6 separate regions of the Homo sapiens genome follow, and all the other regions are linked to region 1. Evidence: fine-mapped expression QTL. A gene starts in region 1. Each other region holds a variant in brackets. All regions are shown on one strand. Distances are from middle to middle.

Region 1 (4,088 bases):
TCACTGCAACCTCCGCCTCCCGGGCTCCGCCTCCCACCTCAGCCTCCTGAGTAGCTGGAACTACAGGCGGGCACTACCACACCCAGCTAATTTTTGTACATTTTGTAGAGAGGAAGTTTCGCCATGTTGCCCAGGCCGGTCTCAAACTCAGGGACACAAGCGATCCTCCCGCCTCCGCCTCCACAATGCTGGGATGACAGGCATGCGCCACCGCATACGGCCTCTTTCTTTTTTTAAATAAGTGACTTTTTCTCAAAAAAAAAAAAAAAGACACTTAAAAGGAATGAGATGCCTGCTTGCACAGGGTTTCTGCCCATCCGACAGTTCTGAAATTACCCTCACCAGGTGACACCGTTGACGCCTTCCCCTTCGGCAGAGTCCTAGTGAAAATGGACATCTTAGTGCTTGGAAAGCTAATGGGAATCAGAGATGATGATGACGATGATGACGGCGGCACCGCGTTATTAAACCTTTGTGCAACGCTATACAAAGTATTTGCAAAGTGCTCAACAATTACTGCACTTTCATTAAGTCAACCATCAGCAGTAAAGCAGCAGCCAAGTTAATTCACATACTCTCCCATTAGCTTATTTAATAATATGCCCCATAAAGTGATTTTTGTGTGGCTGTAAAAGAGCCCCAGTCAGCTTTTATGGCCTTTTCTTGGGGCCTCTCAGATGAGCTCAGACAGTAACTCTGATGAGCGGCAGCAGCTCGGAGCTGGGTGTTACCCCAGCCTGCTGTTTAGCAATCCGGTGGAATGAGTTAGTAAGCCGCAGTTCTGTAGAGCTCCTAAGCCGGAGGTTCAAAACATCTCATCAAAACCAACATGGTCTCACCCTGCCAACGCTCAAAACAGCAGTGTCAGGCCCAAATCTGGAGGCCAACGTGCAGAAGACCTTTCCAGGCCGGGAGTTAGGTGCCTGGGGAGGCAGGGCAAATTCTAGAGTTCAGGCCTCCCTTGGGGGCACACCTTCCATCCGTACTAACTGGCGTGTGCAGGCGCTGCTGCTTCGCGCTGCGCACGGAGAAGCGCCCCGAATCCACCGCACGATGCGGAGCCAGGGGCAGCGAGTGAGCGGCGGCCTCCAGCCCTCCCCTGCCTTCTCCTTGCCCCTTTTGGGAATGGCAGGGGGTTTCCTATGACAAATGCCCGCAAACAGGACAGGGTTCGGACGACCCCAGAGCCGGCGCCTTCTCCCTACACTCTCAGCCCTAGGGCCGGACCCGCCCCCGCGGCTGCCATCGCCCCTGCCTCGGGCGCCCCGCGGGGACCACCCCGCCAGGTGAGCGCCTCCAGGAGCCTCTCTGAAACTCACCTGCGTGAAGTACAAGTTCATCAGCGTGAGGGTGAAAAACTGCAGGCACACAGGGAAGCAGTAGAGCAGCCAGAAGACGAAGGGGCTGAGCGAATTGGCCGCCACGAAGTCTTTGAAGTAGAAGGAGAAGAGGACGGTCCGCAGGGAGGCCCAGAAGAGGCAGAGAAAGAGGAAGACGCTCTGGTAGCTGAGCCGCTTGTGGCGGTAACGCAGCACCAGCCAGAGCTGCACGTAGATGAACACGAAGAGCAGCGCGTAGAACACGGTGTAGACGACGGTGAGGCCAAGCTTCACGTAGGGGGGCACGGCCGGGGTCAGCGTGGGCGGCAGCGAGTCGTTGCGGGCTGGGTCCCACGGCGGGGTCTCCATCGGGCCGGGGGCGCTGCCGCGCGGCCGGGGACGCTCGGGCCTCATCGGGGCTCACGGCCGCCGCCGCCCCCGCGGGGGTCTCCGCGCATCGCGCTCAGCCTGCAGCCCCGAGACTGGAGGAAAGAAAACAAGCCGCACTTCCTCCCCCGGCACCACATGATTCACTGGGACGGCCTTTGTCTGCGATTGGCAGCGCCGCGCCCGCCGCCCCCGCGCGCCGACCGGCCCCGCGCGCCCCCGCCCCGGCCCGCGCGCCCCCGCCCCGGCCCGCGCGCCCCGGCCCGCCCTCCCCCGGGCACCGCGCGCCTTCGCCCCGCGAACCCCGGCCCGCCCTATCCTCGCCACCGCGCGCTCCCGCAGTGCGCGCCCCCAGAGCCGCACGCCTCCTCCCGGCCCCCTCCCCATCCCCGGGGCCGCGCGCTCCCAGACTGCGGGCCCCCAGAGCCCCGCGTCTCTTCCCCCCTTCCCGCCCCCTCCCCATCCCAGGGGCCGCGCGCTACCCGTCCCCGGCCCCTTCCCCATCCCCGGGGCCGCGCGCTCCCGCACTGCGCGCCCCCAGAACCGCGCGCCTCCTCCCCGGTCCCGGCACCGCGCCGCGCGCCCCCAAAACTTCCCAGCCGCGCCCCGCGCCTCGGGGGATCGCACTCGTGGCCTCGCGCATTCTGCTGCTGATTGCTTGTTTTGCAGAAGTTAATTCCTTTATTTAAAAACAAATTTAAAAAAAAAACTTTACAAGTCCTTTCCGTCCCCCCCTTTAAAAATAAAACTTTACGACTCTGTGGCTATGAACTGGCCGGCGTCTGGAATGATGTTTATTTCTAAATGCAGACATGCCAAAGACAGGGTTCGTATTTTTGAGGTCAAATTTGTATACTGAGTGAGGAAATAGACGGTGCCTGCGGCTGCTGCCTCCTCTGGGATGCAAGCTGGGCTGTTTTCTCCCGGAGAGCCTCACGCGCTCCCAGCGCCTCACCTCCCAGCGATGTAGCCGGTGCCGGGAGGCGCGCGGGCCGCGGGTCAGTGGATGGAGCCCACTGGGCTTCAGAGAGAAGTGGGGCAGCTGACGGCACACGGCCCCCCTTGTCCGATCCAACCCATGCCGAAGGAGGGTCTGTCCCCGCCACCCGAGAGCCCTTCTCTTTTGCTTTTGCTGAGCAGCTCGCTCCTCGAGGCTGTACAGCGACTTAGTCTTTGCCCCGGGGCACCACGCCACCCTTGTCTTGGGAGAGCTGGGGAGTGCTCTGGGAAAAGAGGGAAAGCCGGGCGCCCTCTGGAAACATTGCTGGGCAAGCGGTTCTGGTAAACAGAAGAAACTCGGATTTCCGAGGCTCCAGTAATTGTGATTTCTTTTCTTACTCCACTTCGTGCCTAATTGTGTGTTCTTTTTCCAAAAGACGGCCTGGCATATCCAGAATCCACCCTAGCTTTTGCTCAGAATTACTTAGTGGTTACAGCGCTCCCAGCGTATTCCAGGTGGTTCACTGGGGCCAAGTGTGCCTTTGGCGTGGAGCTCCTTTTCCAGTTTTTCTATCCTTTCCCTCTCTCCCTATCGCTATTTCAAGAGGAAATACGGAATTGGGCTCCACGCCTCTGATCTCGTTCCCCTCAATCCCCGTTCTGAACAGCGCAAGTGGAATGATGGAATGATCGCTCTAAAGAACACCTGGCCACTTTACTCCCGTGCTTAAATGCCCTTCCCTTGCTCCTCATAGTTCTGGGGTTAGAGTCTAAACTCCTACCCTAGCTTACCTCCCTGCCTTATCTCTTCCAAGGTGTTAAGCAGTGTTAACACCTCCTGACTCCCCTAGACTAAGAAAATTCTGCCCTTTCCTCCAACAGCTGGTCCTTCCTAGCTATCCATGAGGGTGTAACTTCCTGCAGAGAGCCTCTCCAGAACTCTCCACCCACCAAACTCTCAGGATTAGGCTAGGTGTTTCACCTGTGTGCTTCCCTAATATCCTTGCCTGATTGTTAGTTTCCCCCGCAACACACTTATTTATGTGTCCTTATGATAGAAACTAGGCTTGTTTACCAGTCTCTCCCCTGGCACATTGGAAAAGCATCCGTATACATTTTATTACACTGAAGGAATATTGTTTGTCAACAGAGGTCCAGACTCTGATATTTCTCCCTCCAGTGTGCATGGATTCTACCTCATGATCCAGGAGGGCTACTGGCTCTCCAGACATTGAGTCCACATCCCAGGCCAGCGTTAGGAGGAACAGGGGAAGACTAAAGAGCACTTGTTTTCTCCTGTTTCTGGAGCCTTCCCAGAAAGACCACATAATGCATCCACTTTTAGCTCATTGCTAGGACTTAATTACCCTAGCAAGCTGGCTACAAGAGATTGGGAAACGTAGTTTTAGTCCACGTGGCATTGTACACAGCTGAAAGCCATGG
Region 2 (4,088 bases), 160 kb after region 1:
TTATCCTTATATATTTTCTGGTTTTTTTTTTTGATGCTGTCACAATTATTAAGGTTTATTTTCTATATTTTGCTAGTATATAGAAAAATAATTTTATATTGACTTTGTATCTTGCATCCTTGCTAGATTCACTTTTGATTATAGCAGTTTTATAGATTCCCCATGACTTTCTACATAAATAACCATATTATCTTAGAATAGAGTAATTTTACTTCTTCAATATGTATGCCTTTTATTTCTTTTTCTTTATCACCTTCAAGTAGGCAAAGATTTCTTAGTATTCAAAAAGCATTAGCCATAAAGGGAAAAAATAATAAATTAGACTTACTAAACATCAAAAACTTTTGCTCTTCCAAACACTATTAAGAAAATGAAAGAGCAAACTACATACTGAGAAGAAATAATGGGTGGGTGCAGTGGCTGGTGCTGGTAATCCCAGCACTTTGGGAGGCTGAGTCAGATGGCTTGCTTGAGCCAGGAGTTTAAGACCAGAGTGGGCAAGACAGTGAGACTCTGTTGCCACAAAAAATTTTAAGAAATGAGCTAGGCATGGTGGCACATGCCTGTAGTCCCAGCTACTTGAGAGTCTGAGGGCGAGGATCACTCGAGTTCAGGAGGTTGAGGCTGCAGTGAGCAGTAATCACGCCACTACACTCCAGCCTGGGCAACAGAGACCCTGTCTCAAAAAATACATATTTATGCATATATATACACACACACACACACACACACACACACACAAATTCCTATACATATAGATGTGCATATATGTGTATATGACAGGAGTTTTTTCTGAAATATACGAACAACTCCTACAACTCAATAATAAAAATTTTTAAATGAACAAAACACTTGACACTTCATTACAAAAGATATCCAAATGCCTGTAGGCACGCAAAAAGATTCTCACTATCAGATGCTTGTAGATGGACCATTCTAACCACTGGTCTTCACATCCAGGCTAAAGTCATCATTGGACTGGCCTTTGACTGCGTGGACAAGATGGTTTACTGGACGGACATCACTGAGCCTTCCATTGGGAGAGCTAGTCTACATGGTGGAGAGCCAACCACCATCATTAGACAAGGTAAGTAAGCAAATATCATTTTTCCTTTTTGGTTTTGCTTCTAGCAGCCAAAGTGGCCATGTATGCCAGAGAAGAACAGCAAATGAAGCCAAACTTTCACAAACATTTCTCAGTCTTTTGTTGCATTACTACGATAAAGTGTGTAAAGTTTAGGCACGTTCTACTTTTTTTTTTCTTTTTTTTTTTGAGACAGAGTCTCACTCTGTCACCCAGGCTGGAGTGCAGTGGCGTGATCTTGGCTCACTGCAAGCTCTGCCTCCTGGGTTCACGCCATTCTCCTGCCTCAGCCTCTCGAGTAGCTGGGACTAAAGTCGCCCGCCACCATGCCTGGCTAATTTTTTGTATTTTTTTTTAGTAGAGACAGGGTTTCACCGTGTTAGCCAGAATGGTCTCTATCTCCTGACCTCGTGATCCGCCCACCTCGGCCTCCCAAAGTGCTGGGATTACAGGTGTGAGCCACGGCGCCCGGCAGGCACAATCTACTTTTCAGTGTTCAACCTCAATTCCTCAATTGAGGAAATTCCTCATTAAGGATGCCAATTTCAACCAATGACTCTGTGCTTTGTTTTTCATGCCTACCTTCAACAAATCAAGACTGTTTTACATGGGTATGATTTATCTAGTTGAAAGACCATTACAACAAAAATCCAAAGGCCTCTAAAAATTCCACTGTGCTGAAATGGTCAAGTATTACATGTTGCTTAATTCAGCGACTCATCAACTGACTTGGGAATATTTTTGCTCCTATGGCATTGTCATGCTGATGATATTTGTTCTGTGGAGTCACCTTGCGTTCTCTGCAAAATATTCACATCAAAGATACATCTTTAAAATAGAGCAGCCTCATTTTGTATTTCTTTTTACTTGGCACTGAATGTAGTTTTTTCTATTTTCAATGGAATGTTTCCCTCACAATTGATATTCTAGAAGATTTCCTGTGCCTGTGGAACAACTCCCGAAGCATTTTTTCCCTTCTTTGTTGCCTTCAGTAAAGATGATGCGGCAGGAATGAAGCTGA[G/A]GTTGAATTAACTATGTCTGGCTTTGGACATAGACCCTGAACCCTTTTCTGGAAGCCAACAGGCTATTTAAATCATGTCTTCCAGTTTTCATGCTTTGGTTTAGTGAAAAACAGTTTGAAAATGCCTATCTCCGTGTGTTAAAAATGTTATTGTTATTATCTATGATTTCATTTTAAAACCCAGTGGAAGAGGGGAATAGGTCATTGTTTGCTATTTCCTGTTGCTTTTGGAGCTCATAACCATCCAAGAACGCTGTAAGCACAGTAAGAAGCATTCCAAGCAAAAGCCTAGTTACTGTGAAAACACAGAATTAAACCAAAATGTGATCTTTGTAGAAGAAAGATCACTGGGAATAATTTTCTTTTTTTTTTTTTTAAGAGAGAAAGAAGCTTCCAGTTATCTCCTTAGCATGGTACAGGTTGGTGCTTCCCTAGTGAGTGAGAGTGACAGTTAGGTATCATTTTCATTTCTTCCTTATTTCATAACAGCCCGGATCCCAGGCTTTCTTTCTTTCCTTGAGTTACAGACCCAACCAAGTATCTCTAAAAAGTATCATATCTTTGAGGTAAGCAGTAAGGAATACTTCTTCCTCGGACTGCACATTGAAGGATAAGATTATCCAGACCTTTCCCTTGGAAGAGTAGCTCATAAAGAAGTATTTTGAGTTGAGGGAGAGGGGGTTGGTTGCTCTTGGGTTTGAGATCGGGACCAAGGCTGGTTCTAAGGAGACAATATGCACGGAGCTCATGGAGCTTCCTCCAGGTGCCTCGCAAAGATGCTCTCACAGAGCAGCCTATATTCTCTGTTTTATTTGCGTATATCTGAGTGGCTCTTGTCTCTCACACAGGATGTGCTCATTCCAAATATACTCCAGAATGACTTATTCTGTTTCTATCTGAAAGCCAGAAGGGACCTTTGGAGGTCAGTCTCACTGTCCCTGTTCATCTAGGGACATGGGAAATATTTTAATATTTTAAAAATCTCTACTTTGTGTTTAGATAATAAAGATCTTGTTCAAGTGGGGTTTCTAATTCTCAATAAACTTCCTCTGGCGGGCTTTCTTTCTGGGGGCTCTGATGTGTCCAGCATCCAAGGTCACCATCATATTAGGGCTCTGGCGAAGGCTAATGCAAAGGGGGCTGAGGGTCTGCACTGCTTGTATGTCCACAGAAGAACACAGTATTGGAGCCAGGTGTGGTGGCTCATGCCTGTAATCCCAACACTTTGGGAGGCCAAGGCGGGGGATCACTTGAGGTCAGGAGTTTGAGACCAGCCTGGCCAACATGGTGAAACCCTGTCTCTACTAAAAATACAAAAATTAGCCGGGCATGGTGGCACGCACCTGTAATCCCAGCTACTCGGGAGGCTGAGGCAAAAGAATCATTTGAACTCAGGAGGTGGAGGTTTGCAGTGAGCTGAGATGGCACCACTGCACTCCAGCCTGAGCAACAGAATGAGACTCTGTCAAAAACAAAACAAAACAAAAAAACCCACAGTATTGGAATGGTTGCCTCATACCCCAGATCCCTCAGGTAGGGTAGCCCCTTCTCCTTCCTGCTTATACTCCAGTCATACTAAATGACCTTCATTCCTTTAATCAGTAGAAGGGAAAGAGTCCTAAGTGATATCAATAAAACACAATCGTTATTATTAATTTAAAAAAACTATATAATAAAACACCAATGTAATCTTCAGCTTCCAGTAAAGTTAGATGGGTGCTGAGGGTTTGCAGTGAAGGTTCATGTTACCCAGTGGCAACTCCTGGCTTGAAAATCAGTTGCTATAACCCAGTAAAGACTGGGGTGTTATTTGTAATCACTGACACCCCTTCTTTGTACCCCTTATACTTGTATGAAAGTAATAGCAGCTATGGTTTCTTGAAAGTATTATTTCAATGACCTTTATCCCCGATAGCTAATGAACAAGATAGAACTATTTTTCCATTCCCTATCTTAAGATCTTCCACTGCCTCCCCTCTGCCT
Region 3 (4,088 bases), 76 kb before region 1:
TCTTTTTGCTTGGCTATAACTTGTTCAACTACAATAGCAGGAGTAAGGAATGTGTGATTGAGAAGGTGATAAAAGAAAATTAAAACCTTCATCTGCTCCTTATTTTTCTTAAATTTTCATTACTATTTTTTTCTTTTCTCACCTTTTTCCTGCACTATGCTCTTTATTTCTGAAGCTCAGAGGTCATTTTTCTTTCACTCATTTCTACATGATTTACTTCTGTATAGAGACATATAATTTGCTTGCTTGTTTATATCACCAGTGGTTTAAAAAATAATTTGAATTTGCCAGCAGAGATACATGTAATGCCAACTGAGGAATACAGAACAGAAGGAAAAGAATCACAGAAAATAATACTATGCTTCCTTGGGGAAAAAGAGAAAAAAGTCAACTTGAGGAAGAATTAAAAAAAAAAAAATAGGGGACTAAGTAATACAAAGATTATTTCTTGGTTTTCTTAACATGTGTTTTAAGTTAAAAAGAAGCAGTTAAATTAAAAACAGATTTATTATATGTCCCCTGCTTTTTTTTTTTTTTTTTTTTTTTTTAAAAGAGATGAGGGTCTCGCTCTGTCATCCAGGCTGGAATGCAGTGGCACAATCATGGCTCACTGCAGCATCCAAATCCTGGGGTCAGGCGTTCCTTCCACTTGAGCTTCCCAAGTAGCTGGGACTACGGACACATGCTATTTTGCCTGGCTAATTAAAAAATTTTTTTTGTAGAGATGGGGGTCTCACTTTGTTGTCCAGTCTGGTCTCAAACACCTGGCTTCAAGTGATTCTCCTGTCTTGGCCTCCCAAAGTGCTGGGATTACAGGCATGAGCCACTGTACCTGGCCATTTCCCATCTTAATAACAAGGATTTCAGCTGTTGCTTCCCTGTATTTAAAGATGACTATGTAGGTTGAGATTTCAGACACAGGATAGATATAGACTATCCATTAACTGGTATTTCATAAAAAATTCAGTCCATCCACTTATGAGGCCTGTAGAAAGATAACACAGGAGATACTGAATGAAATTTAAATAAATTGAAATGAAAAATATTGTAAATAACTTAAGCATCTCTTAAGTCCAAATTAAATTGAGAAAGATGAAAACAATTGAGAATTTCAAAACAATTGAAAATTTCCTTCGATCTCATAAAAAATATTCACAAATGCAGCCTTTCTTGTTTTAGTTCTATATCTAGAGCTTATTACCTTTTATTGTTCCCTAGAGTAATGGACTCAGAATCAGGGGTCCTAAAGTTCTGGAATCCTGGCCTGCCCTTTAGTAGTGGTATGAACTCAGGCAAATCACTGCTTTCCTAGTTTGTTTCCTGATAATGAGATCATATATGTGATGGGCTTAGAACATTGCCTGTCCTCCTAAGTGATTAAGGAATAATTTTTCTTCTATCAAATAGTTAAAGATTTTTCTTCTATCACCCCTGAATTGTACATAGGGATACTTGAGCTTTTAGAATTACTTTTTTATATTTCCCATCCCAGAGTTTTACTTTTTGGCCTGGGCTGAGAAGCACTTCATTTAGTCAGTCAGTAATCATTTACTGAAT[A/G]CTATAAGCATCAATGGGTATGGGGCACAGGAGAGAGACTCAGCAGGAGATGAAATAGAGTCTTTACCCTTAGGGAGCTAACAACATAAGACAAATTAGTGTGTTTGGGGAACATTGAGTAAAGAGCAATCATTTGAAGAGGAATGTGCAAAATAAATTTATTAGACCAATTGTAAATGATTTGAGATTCTTTATTAAGAATTATTCATATCACTGTTCCCATTATTAATCTAATGTCTGTAGATAGTATGAAGTAACAGGCTTCCTTTGCCCCTTCTAAACCAGTCTTAATGAGAACACTAATTTAAACATGGAAGCTTCAGTGTTTGAGGTTTTTTATTTTAGGTTTTGCTTTCAAATTATAGCTTATGTAACAATATCAATAATTTGAAACAGTATGCAACATGTTAGCCTTACTAATAAGCTTTTTCTTTCTTCCATAGGCTTTCTACAAGTATAAGAGACTTACAGAATTTTAAAGTCTTATTACAACACAGTAGGTAATAAAGGCTTTTATGTGTCTAACTAGAGACATAAAGTGACTGTGGAAAGCCTTTTAATTATGGACATTCATCAGAAAGACACTAATCTGACTTCAAGAATTCTGAACTATTAAATAGAAAATTTAAATGCTCACTTGAATATTTATGATTCTTAATAGATTATTATCAACTAGAGATATTTATAAATGAAGTATATACTTTTAAAACATGTAAGTTATACTAATTTTGTGTTTAATTTCATATGTTTTCATGTAATGAAAATTCTATTTTTTTTAGAATTGGTTTTGTTTTTATTCTATTATCCTTTATTTCCAGTTGTCAAACTTTAAATGGCTATGTCTGCATTCTAATAACACTGTTCAGTCTGTTATGGAAAAGGAGAACTAGGGAACAAATGTTGCTCAGGGCTGGTGTCAGTGAGAAAAATTTATCAATGCTTTTTAATGTGTTTTTACCCTTGCCTCACTGTGTGTGTGTCACTTTCTATAATATAAAGAAATACTATAATATTTCTAGAATCTGGAACTGTCACCATGATGAATGGCCCTTTCAATGCATAGTTACAGAAATTCCTGAAGATTCCCCAGGACTTCAATTTCATTGGTTTTTATTTGCAGTTTTTAGTTGCTGTAATTGTTGCTGTTTCCAGTCTAAAGGACCTCCTTTGGTAAAGGTGAACAAGACCTCTCCCCTATGCTACCCAGCCAGATTTTGTGTGTGTAATGGGCTGGCCCAAGAGTGTTCTTTTACTTAGAACTCCTTTTGATTTTGCTTTTCTCTGCCCCTAGAAATTTTAGGGACAAAGACATTTTGGAAATTGTCAGTTACTTTTAGAAAGAAAACACTGCAGAAATATTTAACAGATTACTTCTTGATAAAATTTAAATGGGATTATATGAATTTATAATGCCAATTGAAAATATTATATACACAAAATTTGCTATTTTCACTTAAAGTAAGCATTTTTAAAGGATTTATTTTAGAATACAATCTATGCAATCCTCGAACTCAGTGTGCTTTTCCCTGACAGGATATATAAAAAGGTAGATTAGGTCAACCCTCCTTTAAGCTTACTCTCCCCTCACCTTTTCTTTTCACTGTATATAAACGGTACTTTCTGTGATTCATACCAACAGAGGACTTTCTGTGATTCATACCAACAGTCCTAAACTGTCATTTTCTAAATCTGGGATTTAAAATCTTTAGACAATATTTAAAATCTTGATTTTTTTTAAATGTCAGCAGATACAATTTGGAAGATTGCATCTGTGTAGAAGTAATGCAGGTACAAGATCTAGAGTTTTTCCTTAGACTCTTTAGTCTTTTCTGAATTAAAGAATAAGTGCTCTTAAATCCATATTTTATCCTGTCAAAGTCTGAAATGTGTTCATTGATGATTTGGTGACATCTAAAAAATTGTATTTAGTTGGCTTGGCTCACCCCTCTTAAAAATACTTAGCCATCTCTTGGTGGGATGTGGTGGGGGTATTAAGGTCTCAGAGTTATTTATTTTCTCACCTAATTTCAAACCTTTATAAACTTGGGGTTTTGTTGTTGATGGTGGTAGTATTTTTTGTTAAGTTGTTTAAAAGGCTGACTTGATTGGAGCCTCCTCTACTTTTTCTTGAGGGTTGCAAGTATTGTATGGTGGGGGAGGGGGGCCTTAAGGCAAACTGTCTAAAAAGTGACTATCCAATTAATTTAACTAGTAAATTAGTAAGAATTATTCTTAGTATTCACTCAGAGTTTAAGATGTGAAAAATCTGCACTTTGTTTATCACTCTAAATGTAAAGAACTTTTTGATAGTGTTATTTCACCACTCCCTCAGTTAAAGGCTATTATTTAAACTGTTTACTGGAGAAAATCCTCGCTCATGTCCATTTATTGTTTTTTTCTGTACTGTGATTTGTTTCAAGCTTAGGAAAACTAGTATATTAGAGTATGTTCTAGGAAATTAAAAGATCTGGTTAGAGTAAAAAGTTCTTTTTAAGGTTCTTAACTAATTTTTTCACAACTAAGAAAATAAA
Region 4 (4,088 bases), 140 kb before region 1:
ATTTGGTTTAATGCTCTGCTGGTTCTGAAAGGTATAAACCACTATGTGGTAGGCTGATTAATGACCCTCTATTTATAAATCCTCATCCTAATCTCTGGAACCTGTGAATATGTTATCCTATATGGCAAAAGGGACTGTGCAGATGTGATCAAGTTGAGGATTTTGAGATAGGATGGTCTGTAACCAATGTAATCACAAGGGTCCTTATACAAGAGAGACAGAAGAGTTAGGGTCACAAGAGAAGGCATGTGACGAGGGAAGCAGAGAGAGTGAAGGAGATGTGAAGTCATGAGGTAAGGAATGCAGGTGGCCTCTGGAAGCTGGAAAAGGTAAGGAAACACATTGTCCCTGAGAGCCTCCAAAAGGAACACAGCCCTACAGGTCCATTTTGGACACCTGATCTCCAGTACTATAAGGTAATGAATTTCTTTTGTTGTATGCAACTAAATGTGTGATAGTTTCTTACAGCATCAATGAGAAACTAATACACGCTACATAAACACAAGGGAGATGTATTACTCGTTTTGTAGAAATCAAAGGCATTAATAAAACTAATAGCAGTTACCATTTATTGAGTGCTTCCTAGGTGCTAGGCACTATACTCAGCTCTTTCTGTATCTAATCTTATGTAGCCCTAGAACAAGATATGAGGTGGGAATTAAGGCCCAATAACTAGCTAGAATGTTTTAGAGTTGGGATCTGCGCCCAATCTATGTCACTCTAAGTTTTTTTTTGTTTTACCCCATCCCCATATTTCATCATAAGCCTTTGGGTTTGTCTTCATTCTTTAGCATGCGTTATACTCGCACGTGTCAACCTAGGAGTCGGGCTGGGGCGGGGCAGGAGATGACATCCACATCTAGGGTGCATGAAATTAAAAAAGAGCCGAAGCCATCTCTACAAGTCACAGGTAGCTTACATAGGCACCCACAGCAGATGTGAGGCTACAGAAAAATGAATGAGACAAAGAATACGCTTCAGACCGAAAGTCAAAGATCCCGCACCGTCCGTTCCTAACTCGCCCGCGTACTGGGTGAATCCTAGAGCCTGGCGTCTGCGAGGACTCCAGGAGCGACAGCAGGGACCGACGCAGAGAGGTCCTCAGCCTGGTTTCCCGGAGAAGAGGTCGCCCCGCTTCCCCCGCCCGCACCCCCCGGTGTTTTGGAGGCCCGCGTGGTCCCGCCTCATTGGCCGCCGCGGAGCCCGAGGCCTCGGGGAGGCGGGGCGGCCTTCGCAGTTGTAGTTCCCGAGTCCTCTCGTTCAGCGGCTCCGCCTTCCTGCCGCGGCGCCTAGGCGACCGCCCAGGACCACAACTCCCACAAGGCCCCGCGCTTGGGGGCGTGGCCGAGGAGCCAAGCGAGCCGGGGGCGGGGCCGCCTGGGGGATGAAGTGGGGGCGCTCGCCTTTCCTGCCTCACTCGCAGCTGCCGGGTGTTGGGGAAAGAGTCGCCTGCCTCCGGACTGGAGTGCAGACCTCTGACCCTGGAGTCGCTCGGCCGCTGGGAACCGTCCCCTTGGGTCGTCGCCTGGGCCGCCCGTCGTTCCCCGGCCCCGAGGGGTCCGGCTGGCCGCGGTGTGGGTAGAGGTCAGCATGAGCCAAGGGGTCCGCCGGGCAGGCGCTGGGCAGGGGGTAGCGGCCGCGGTGCAGCTGCTGGTCACCCTGAGCTTCCTGCGGAGCGTCGTCGAGGCGCAGGTAAGCCCGAGTGATAGCGGGCCGGGAACCCCCGGCCGAACACCCGCGGCCGCTACACACGGGCCGCGGCTGTGACGCGGGGAGGGCCGGGCAGGGCCGGGC[C/AGGGCCGGGCC]AGAAAAGAGGTGATTTCTGGCGAGCAGAAAACCCGGGGAGCAGAGACCTGACCGTCCAGTGCGGGAAACATCTGCGAACCGCCCGCAGGGTGGGGGGACGGCGACACTCCGGGTAATGGCAGTCAAAAGAGGAAGATGGTGACGGTCCCCCTGAGCTGTTTTCGTTTTTTCCTCTCGGATGTGTTAAGCGGCTGGGAGTGTGGCGGGAGATGGGACGGGCATGAACCACCTCGGCTGTCTTGCGAAGGGAGCGAGCGCCCAGAGAAACGGTGACGTCCTTCCCTTCAGGAGTTAGTGAGGGAGGGAGACTGAGAGTTGGGGGCACTCCGCAGACCCCCGAGGCCCCGCCAGGCGCAGGGGATTGGGAGGGGGCAAGACTTCACTCGAACTGTCGGACTAGAGCTTTCTGGGCTTTTACTCTTCCTCGAGCACCTTCCCTTGCTCAAGATTGCTTTATTTTTACCCAGCTGAGCTGTGTCTGCCAAGTGGCATCGCCAGGTAAGTCCCAATACGAGACTGGGGGGGTCTGAGTGGGGCGTTGTGGCTCGTGGATGGAGGCTCTGGCTCTGGCAGTCGTGAGGTGCTGGCTGGTTGTTGATGTGAAGCGATGATTACAAGTGTTCTCAGTGTGCTAGAAATCTGAGGCTTAGCTGACCAGATCCTTTCGCCTTCAGAGAGGTGTTTGCTTCTATTCAGTAGAATTTGAATTGATTGCCAGGTGCTGCTGCTTGTTGTCTGCACCTGCTGCAAGGAGGCAGCACTGCTGAGGGCCAAAAAAATAAAACGAAGGTCTCAGGTGGCCTGATGATGAGGGGAGATGTCATTTGAAGCAATTAGTGCTCATCCAAGAAAAATTGAAGGTGACTCTGAGTGTAACCGTGAAAACATGTTTTTCTGAATTGAGTCACTTTATTTCATGGTTTTATGGTGCCCTGCACTAAATCCCAGAGTGCCTGAATAGTCCGTTTGTGTCTGTGTTTGAACCATAAAAATAAAAGGGGCAAATTTTTGGTATTGGGGAACATGTTAAAATGCAGATTCTCTGGCCCTACCTCCACATGTATTGATTGGATCTGGAATATGGCCCAGATATCAGCATTTTAAACAAACATTGCAAGTACAGTATAACTGTAGCAAAGTTATCTTTTGACTACCTCTTGGACCTCACTTGGAAAACACTGAGATGGAATAGATAGTGGTAATCTGGGCAGACTTACTAAAGTAAATTTTCCAAATTGTCTTTGGCAAAATTATTTTCTAGTCACTAGTTGAGTGTTTCTGAGTGAAATTTACAATTCGATATTTTTCTGAAATGAGAGTTCCCATTTTCTCTTTTTATATAGCACATATTAATTTATGCTTATCTGTCTAGAAACTTCATTTTAAATTTTTTTCATTTACCACTAATTATGTGTAATTAATGTTTTATAATTTCACCTGTATTTTTAAAATTCTTGTGTAGAGATGGGGACTATGTTATTAGGCTGATCTTCAACTCCTGGCCTCCAGCGAGCCTCTTACTTTGGCTTCCCAGGTGCTGGGATTACAGGTGTGAGCCACTGTACCTGGCCTGCCCCTGTACTTTTAATTTCATTATATCCAAATGAATATAAATATAGTCCAACAGTTAAAGATTTGTGAATATTTGAAGTAGCATTGTGCCAAACAGTCTTCCAAGTGAATATATTTGGTTTTTGTTGCCAGCAGTACTTACTTTCTTTTTTTTTTTTTTTTTGAGATAGTGTCTCACTCTGTTGGCCAGGCTGGATGCAATGGCATGTGTTGGCTCACTGCAACCTCTGCCTCACAGGTTCAAGCAATTCTGTCTGCCTCAGCTTCCCAAGTAGCTGGGATTACAGGTGCTTGCCACCGCGCCTGGCTAATTTTTGTGTGTGTGTTTTTTTTTTTTTTCCCAGTAGACAGGGTTTTGCCATGTTGGCCGAGCTGGTCTTGAACTCCTGACCTAAGGTGATCCGCCTGCCTCGGCCTCCCAAAGTGCTGGGATTACAGGCGTGAGCCACCGCGCCCAGGCCGCCAGCAGTACTTTCTACTGTGCTGTTTTTTTTTTTTTTTTGAGATGGAGTCTCGCTCTGTGTCACCCAGACTGGAGTGCGGTGGCGCCATCTTGGCTCAGTGCAGCCTCCACCTCCTGGGTTCAAGTGATTCTTCTGTCTCAGCCTCCCGAGTAACTGGGACTATAGGTGTGTGCCACCACACACGGCTAATTTTGTATTTTTTAGTAGAGATGAGGTTTCACCATGTTGGCCAGGCTGGTCTCGAACTCCTGACCATA
Region 5 (4,088 bases), 37 kb after region 1:
ATGGCTTGGAGGCATTGTGATTCACCCTTGCAAATTTCTGAGAAATTAGTCGGTAGAGAGCAGAAAGCAAACGTGAGAAGATATAATTAAAGAGGCCAGATAGGGATAAAGGGCTTATTTACATCAAGAGTCTTTCAAAGAAAAGAGAAACCAAGCAGTCAGTTGAATGTTAAAAAAAAAAAAAAAAATTAGAAACAAGGCAAAGACAAATGACCATACCAGAGGAAGCAGATACATCAAAAAGTCAGAAAGATAATGAAAGATGAGAATCTCATTGTAGAGTATACAGGTTTAGATTAATTATCAAAAGCTCCGCACACACATTTGGAGAGAAAAAAGAGAATGCAAATTCAGAGAAAACTCAAAGTCCTCAGTTATTTCCTTCCCATCTCCCTCAGCCTCAGTTTCCCCATCTTATGAAACCAGATGACCTGTAAGGCTCCTTTCATATCCATATTTGTAATTCTACAAAATAAATAGCTGCATGAAGATCTTTTACTTCTCAGTTTTTATCTCCAAAATTTCGTAGCCAATTTTTGTAGAGAAAATAAAAATTACATATGAGCAAGAAAGGCTAATTAAAATAATCTTACCACCTAGAGATAGCCACTGTGAATATCTTTATGTATATTCTTCCCTATTCATATAGGCATACATAGAAATAATTTTGTATAAATTTTATTATGGCCTTTTTTTTTTTTTTTGAGATGGAGTCTCGCTCTGTCGCCCAGGCTGGAGTGCAGTAGCGCCATCTCGGGTCACTGCAGGCTCCGCCCCCCGGGTTCACGCCATTCTCCTGCCTCAGCCAAATATTGCAAGGATGTTTTCTTGTCTTGGTTTCCTTTCCACACCATTGTCTGTGACCGCTGCCAGGTATTTTAGTCTAATGAAAGTATCGGTATAATATTAGTTGCAGTGAAAATGTGTGTCCAGATTGGAAAAGATGAAGAAAGCTGAGAAAAACAACATTTTTCCTTGCATGATGCCTTCTACTTTACAAAAGACTTGTATAAAAGCTTTGTATGGGAGGCCGAGGCGGGCGGGTCACGAGGTCAGGAGATCGAGACCACGGTGAAACCCCGTCTCTACTAAAAATGCAAAAAAAATTAGCCGGGCGTGGTGGTGGGCGCCCGTAGTCCCAGCTAGCTACTCGGGAGGCTGACGCAGGAGAATGGCATGAACCCAGGAGGCGGAGCTTGCAGTGAGCCGAGATTGCGCCAGTGCACTCCACCCAGCCTGGGTGACAGAGCAAGACTCCATCTCAAAAAAAAAAAACCAAAAAAAAAAAACAACTTTGTAATCAGCCGGGTGCAGTGGCTCACACCTGTAATCCCAGCACTTTGCGAGGCCCAGGCAGGCGGATCATTTGAGGTCAGGAGTTGGAGACCAGCCTGGCCAACACGGCGAAACCCCATCTCTACTAAAACTACAAAAATTAGCTGGGTGTGGTGATGCATGCCTGTAGTCCCAGCTACTTGGGAGGCTGAGGCAGGAGAATCACTTGAACCCTGGAGACAGAGGTTGCAGTGAGCCAAGATCACGCCTCTGCATTCCAGCCTGGGCGACAGAGTGAGACTCCATCTCAAAAAAAAAAAAAAAAAAAAAAAAAGCTTTGTAATCTACAAAGTGTTTTTACATCTT[CTCTTA/A]AGACTGCCCAACTAGCAGCGTCTAGCATATGGGTAGTGTCAATAAGTGTTATTAAATAAATGGGAAATCAAACAAATATGCATTATCATATGTATCCTTATGAAACTGGGATTTGGTAGGCCTCATTCTCATAATTTTATGAATGTTTTAAAGCTGCATCTATTACCTTGATAAAATCCATTATAATTTACATAGTATCCACACAGACCGATCTCATTTAAGCCTCCCAGCCACTCTGTAACTAACTAGGGTAGATAGCATCAGTCTCATTAAAGAGAGGCAGAGGCTGAGGTGGAGATAATCAGGGTCAGATAGTCAATCAGCGGAAGAGCTTGACCTTAGACTCAAACCCATGACACTTTCAACTGCTTCCCGACTGTGACCAAATGTCCCGCCCCACCTTTATTTAAGCAGTTTGTGCTATAGTGAGGCAGAGTCACCAGCATGCAGGTAAATGTTTAAAGTTCAGCTCTGGGGGAGTGGAGGGAGCCCTGATTTGTGGAGTTCGCTGATTTCTCTGGTGTGAATACTGCCACATGGCGGATTTGAAACTACTGACACAACGTCATGGTGTCATTGTGTAGAGACGTGCACAATCAGCTCAAAGGTGCTAGCTGGCTCCAACGCATCCCTGGGTGGAATGAACTTTCTTTCCACCTGATCGTTAATTCCTGGAGGCCAGGAACCACATCTCTTTGCAGTTTTCACTGTGCTATGCACACAGACGGCAGTGCATCAGCGTTCGGGCTCAACATCAGGGTTCAGCCTGGGTTTCCCATTCTCTGGTTTCCTCACCTGCCAGCCCTCTTCCCCTGGACCTGGGGAAGTACTTGGAGACAATCCTGCCCCCTTTACCATTTCCCTTTCCTTCCTCTCCATTCATGTCCCGGTCACAGCCTGAGGCAGAGTCATGGGCCCAGTGCAAGAAGAAAGGCCATGGGAACCTTAGGATCTCGTGGGGTTTTGTTTGTTTGGCTTTTTGTTTGTTTGTTTGTTGAGACAGGGTCTTACTCTATTGCCCAGGCTGGAATGCAGTGGCATAATCACAGCTCACTGCAGCTTTGACCTCTACGGCTCAAGCACACCACTATGTCTGGCTAATTTTTTTAATTTAAAATTTTGTTCTAGAGACAAGGCCTCGCCATGTTGCCCAGGCTGTTGGATCTCATGCTTTGTGGTGTTTTTTGTTTGTTTGTTTTTGAGATGGAGGCTCGCTCTGTCGCCCAGGCTGGAGTGATCCAGCAAGCTCACTGCAAGCTCCACCTCCCGGGTTCAGGCCATTCTCCTGCCTCAGCCTCCCGAGTAGCTGGGACTACAGGCGCCTGCAACCACGCCCGGCTAATTTTTTGTATTTTTAGTAGAGACGAGGTTTCACCGTGTTAGCCAGGACGATCTCGATCTCCTGACCTCGTGATCAGCCCGCCTCGGCCTCCCAAAGTGTTGGAATTACAGGCGTGAGCCACCGCGCCAGGCCGCTTTGTGGTCTTTTAAGACCAAGCTTAGAGTCTTCTTCCTGTCCTGGAGTTCCGGCACTCACCTTCTCAAGAAGCTTGGGCAGCTGCTTCCATGGGGGCCAGTGGGAGGAAGAGAGGGAGCAGATGGGAGACGGCTCTGACCCTCAGTACCGCAGGGCCGTTGCTTCAAAACTGAACTGGCACAAAACCCATCAACTGTTTGGAAACCAGGATTCCTGGCTTCTGGTTTTACTGCCCAGGGCTACAACTCTTGGGGCTATTTTTCTTGCCAGACATCTTACTGGGATTTTCTGCTGTGGAGAGCACCTCGTGCTGGTCTGCGCTGATAAAGAAATGTCATTTTCTGGAGGGTTGGTTGATGTGCGGATCTTGAAACAACGAAGAGCGCGCAGGGAGGCGGAGAAAAGACAGACTTTGGCGCCATCTACTGGAAACTTCTGTTTCTGCATGATGTGGATGAATTGGATAAAACTGACAAAATGGAAATTGTATGTATATTCTGTTCTTTGATACATGATTGATGTCGAAAATCTCTTATAAGAAGAAATATAGAAAACATATATTTAATGAATCATGAGTTAAATTCTAACTTCTCCTCTACTAAAACTTCTATCAAATCTGCTGTCAGGCAAAAATGGTTGAATTTTCATTCTACTCCAACCCACCCTCCCTTACAAATACTGTGCTAATATTCAGCAACATAGCAAGGACTAGAGAAGGGACAACAGCCAAAACAAAGGCTGCGCAAGTCCACTGGCCTGAAAATCAAGTCCAGAGAAAAGGGAAAGTGATTCTACCTGCAAACCAACCCAGCCCCTTGTCTGAGGAGGGGGTGGACAGGTACCTCCAGCAACTTCTAAAATCAAGTGACCACAGCAAAACGGAAACAAGAAAAGATGCACCAGCTGCAGTCACCGCCGAGCCCCTGCTTAGCGGCAGCTTTGCTGGAGAGTGTCTCCCTTTTGT
Region 6 (4,086 bases), 66 kb before region 1:
TTCCCTTAGCTGACCTAATACTGAAGGACTTCAGGACTTTCTGAAGATGTAACTTAAAGGAGTTTAAAACATGCTGAGTCTGCCTTTAAATTAACTATTAGTAATACAGTGTGACCACAATAATCTGTTAAAGCTATTTAGAATAATAGCTTATAATGTGTTAAGGCAACTTGAATAACAGTGTAGGGTTCACTTCAGTATAGACTTTTCCCTGATAACTACTTTAAATGCTATGTTACCCCAATTTTTTCATGTACTAGAAGACAAGAATGTTGTTATGTAGGATTATGCAGAGTGAAGGTGTTCTATACACATGAAAAGCCCAATGATGATCAATTTGAAACTTGAGATCCCAATTTTAAATACTACCAAAACAATAGTAGACTTCATCTGTGAAATCAATGCCCAGAGATCAGTTATTCCTGAAGATCAAAATGAGAGGAGTCATTTGAAATGGGTTGCATCATGTAGTAGGACTTGTTAATATAAGTTCCTTTTCATTGAACCTTCCCTCTGTCCCCAGATGAGCATTCCTAGGCAGAGAAGAAACGTGCCTTGTTTCTGGTAACAGTACTTCCTCTAGAACCTTATCTCTGTTTTATAGAAAAGCAGAGCATTTAGCCTCCCAATAGGCAGTTTTATGGCTCCAGGATATATATAGTGGAGTTTTTAGAATGGCACTTCCGGTCTGGGAGGCAGTACTTCATAACCTGTTTTTTACTTAAATGAAAGATGACTTACAAGGAATTGTCTGGAACATGGCTGACAGGCATCATGCTACAGCATATTGCAGTGCTATTGCCATTTTTAAATGTGCAGCTTCCAATAGGCTCTTTACAGAGCTATTTAGAAGGGCATTATTTTAAATATAGTTGGAGATTACGGAAAAAACTATTAGGATTCCACATAGTCTTAGCTCAACGGCTTGGGGTATTTGTTATTAATGCCCTTTATGGACCCTCTTATTTTCTCCTTGAATGTAATGAACATTCAGTGAGTTCGGAAAGGGGTGTATTCTTGATGTGGCCCTGAGGTAATGCATATTAGATTTCATTAGGCTGAAAAAAAACTATGCAGAATCTGTGAACATAGCAGAGGAGGTTTAATAGGATAAGTCAGCTACATTTTTAATGTTATCAACTTATCATTAATGTGTATACATTAGCGCCCTACTGAAAGGAAGTACCAGTCTTTGGGCAAAACTTAAGAGATTCCTTGAGGAACCTACGGCCTGAACCTTAAAAAAAAAATCTCTAAAGACCTTACAGTCTGCTGCTTTACCATTTCATTTTAATTATCAACACTGGAGTTGCAATTGGCTAAGTTGTCAACTGTATTTTAGGAGTCTACCAATGTGGCACTCAGAATCGGAGTGACCATCAGTGACCTAAAGAGGTAAGATTTGTGGAATACTTTAGTCCAAAAGCTTTAAAAAACTATTAGACCATATATTCTATATTTTTAAAGTGAATTATGCATAAAAGTCTGTGCAAACTACAACATGATTGCAGTAACATTCTCAAGAAAAAAAAACCCTAGTATACTTTAGCATTATTATTTAAGTTATACAAAATACATCTTTATAAAAGTACAGATTTTCTTTAAAAAGTTTAAATTATACCCACTGAAATAGCAAGGCTCCCTCTTTAGTACTAAAATAAGGGTTTATCAGTCTACATTATTGCTTATTCCTATGGGGCCATTGGAAACCTGTAACAAATAAAAATCAAGTTCTATTTCTTAAGGAAAAGTGCCCTAAAAATTCAGCTGTCACTATGCTTTTCTGAAGCTTTTCATCTGAGGAATCGTCCATAAAACTGTTAACTGATGCTACCCAAGGCTTGGTTTGTCAGGATCCAAAGTTGAGTCTTGCAAAGTTCCTGCTTGTGCCAGGAAGCTGTTAGTTTGTTGT[C/A]CCCAATCATAGTAATCTGGAGCAAAACTTAAAAAGAAAAAAATATTTCAGTGACTTGAAACATTATATAGTATGTATGACATAGTCTAGTTTAGGTAGACAGAGCTGAGATTTTTGTGTAAACTATAGATAACTCTAAAGTTCTTTTAAATGGCTCTTAAAGTCCATTTTCCCACAAAACCATGCTACACACAGGGCTGAAATGCCCACCGACAACTCTACTGAACTCTTTAGAGCACAGAGTATACAGCATGACTAGAGAACCCAGCCAGTCACTATGCATAGGAAATGTTTTCAGCAACAAACTGCATCTGAATCCTAACATGGAGTACAGCTCACAACCTGTGGTGGTGTCTTTGGACAAGTAACTTCTATGCCTCAATTTCCTCATCTTAGAATGGGAGTAATATTAGTAACTACGTCGTGGGCCTATTGTGGGGACTGAGTTAACATCTGTAAAGTGCTTAGAACAGTGTCTAATATATAGTTAATTCTCAATACACGTAAGTCGTTTTCATTATAATTATGTTCCTCTATGTAGTAGAAAGGGGGTCTTGTCTTCACCATATCGGTAGTGAGGACTCCCTCAGCTCTAAGTCATTTCTGGCAGGTGAGAGGGTGGGACAGCTCTAGCAGAATATGGGTTTAAAGGGGAAAGCAACTAATAGGAGATGCAGTGGGGTAACTGGAAAAGAACAGTTTTAAGGAAGAGGTGGAGCTCAGAATCTGAGTGACCCAAAGGACAGCTTTTGACTTCAAGAAGTCCTTCTTGTTTGTTGGCTTGCTTCCAGCTTACGTTCTTTACATCTGCTGGCTCAGCGCATTGGGCAGCTTTCTTCTTTTTTCTCAGCGACAATCTTTTATCCTATCTGACCAGGATTTCTCTGCTCCCCGATCACTGAGAAAGCATGTATTCTCCCAGCTTTTCTTCAGTACTTCTGTCCCTAAAACAAGGACTCTTTTCAGAGCTCTCTTAAAAAGTTTTCTAAAGACTTTCACTGTTACTAACAAGGAGTAAAAAGGCAAGCATATATTTTTTATCATTTCATCCCAGAGGGAAAAAAGTTGTAAAGTTGTTAATGCTAAGTCTTTAATCTTACAAAAGATTACATAAGATAACCTTTCACTTTCTAAGAAGCTCCCCTTTCCCAGGAACAGGATGGGGGTCCTGAGAGGACAAGCAGAGAGAAGACAGGCTTGGCAGGCACTATGTCAGCCCTTTTGGCTCCTCTCACCCCTGCTGGCCTCACCGTCTCAGAGCCACAGGCTGAAAGGGGAAACATGATAGTCATCGGGTAGTGGAGTATGGCTGAGCACAGCAGGCTGAGGAAAAGGGAAGGGAATCCCAATAGCAACTACCCTTCCTGTTTGCAGACCATGCCCATGCTGAGGTAAGCAAAACTTGGAATCCTGGGGTGGATCTCTGCTATGGTTGCAATTTCAGGTGCTTCCCTCTTTTTATTTGCCTTCCCAATTCACTGAAGATTAGGCGATGGCAGCGGACTGGTAGTTCATGTATTGTCTTACACCCTCTATGTATGCTGCTTTGAACTCTCAGTATTTAACTGCCCTTTCCACATTTTCTGGGCCAGATCCGCATGTAGATTCAAGGAAGGAGACTCCTGCTATTAAAACTCACGTGAAAGTATAACATAAGCGTAGGTGAGACTAAGAGACAGGGTACTTATATACAAACTGTTTACATAGTATGGTGATTCAGAAAACAAATTTGAACAAAACTGCCTGAGTTAGAATTGTAGCCTGATCACTTGCTAGCTGTGTGACCTTGGACAAGTTACCTACCCTCTAGATACCTCAGTTTCATCTGTATTATGAGGCTAATAATAGTACTGACCTCTCAGGACTGTTAAGACTAAATGAGTTGATATTTGTGAATCTCTTAGAACAGTGTCTGATACAGAGTAGATGCTATAGAAGTATTTATTAAATAAGTATTCATGAAAATTGAGACCAAATAAATACCCTTCATGTAAATGAAATTTTAAATTAAGAACTGACATCATTCAAATTTGAAAACTTGGTCCTTTATAATGTATAATTTATTCTAATAAATAAATACTACTGCATTTACTCTCTAGCTTTAGAACATGTGATTAAAGATATCATGTTCCATTGAGTGATTCCATAGACAAGTGCTGTATTTCCCTCTTGGA

Evidence for each region. PIP is the estimated chance that this variant, and not a neighbour inherited with it, causes the effect.
Region 2: its variant is fine-mapped to the expression of GPR137B in whole blood (TOPMed, PIP above 0.99).
Region 3: its variant is fine-mapped to the expression of GPR137B in whole blood (INTERVAL, PIP 0.92).
Region 4: its variant is fine-mapped to the expression of GPR137B in whole blood (INTERVAL, PIP above 0.99).
Region 5: its variant is fine-mapped to the expression of GPR137B in whole blood (TOPMed, PIP above 0.99).
Region 6: its variant is fine-mapped to the expression of GPR137B in whole blood (TOPMed, PIP above 0.99).

The regions. Positions count from the first base shown.
Region 1 is chr1:236,140,268-236,144,355 of GRCh38, reverse strand. It overlaps GPR137B (G protein-coupled receptor 137B), which reads right to left and starts at 1,817. Exons shown (of 7, transcript NM_003272.4): 1 at 1,320-1,817. The coding sequence starts at 1,733. RefSeq lists an enhancer at 1,090-1,593 and silencers at 1,559-1,828, 1,899-2,078.
Region 2 is chr1:235,982,378-235,986,465 of GRCh38, reverse strand. NID1 (nidogen 1) reads left to right here. Exons shown (of 20, transcript NM_002508.3): 15 at 961-1,087. Among named protein-coding and RNA genes, the nearest start is that of LINC02768, 12 kb to the right of the region's middle. The variant G/A (reference allele first, on the strand shown) is at 2,106.
Region 3 is chr1:236,216,489-236,220,576 of GRCh38, reverse strand. It overlaps ERO1B (endoplasmic reticulum oxidoreductase 1 beta), which reads left to right. Exons shown (of 16, transcript NM_019891.4): 16 at 2,001-4,088. The coding sequence ends at 2,061. Among named protein-coding and RNA genes, the nearest start is that of ERO1B, 63 kb to the left of the region's middle. The variant A/G (reference allele first, on the strand shown) is at 1,558.
Region 4 is chr1:236,279,286-236,283,373 of GRCh38, reverse strand. ERO1B (endoplasmic reticulum oxidoreductase 1 beta) reads left to right here and starts at 1,416. Exons shown (of 16, transcript NM_019891.4): 1 at 1,416-1,692. The coding sequence starts at 1,591. RefSeq lists silencers at 1,072-1,661, 1,702-1,751 and an enhancer at 1,822-2,021. The variant C/AGGGCCGGGCC (reference allele first, on the strand shown) is at 1,795.
Region 5 is chr1:236,103,270-236,107,357 of GRCh38, reverse strand. No RefSeq gene overlaps it. Among named protein-coding and RNA genes, the nearest start is that of GPR137B, 37 kb to the left of the region's middle. The variant CTCTTA/A (reference allele first, on the strand shown) is at 1,642.
Region 6 is chr1:236,205,903-236,209,988 of GRCh38, reverse strand. It overlaps GPR137B (G protein-coupled receptor 137B), which reads right to left. Exons shown (of 7, transcript NM_003272.4): 7 at 1,082-1,939. The coding sequence ends at 1,831. Among named protein-coding and RNA genes, the nearest start is that of GPR137B, 65 kb to the right of the region's middle. The variant C/A (reference allele first, on the strand shown) is at 1,913.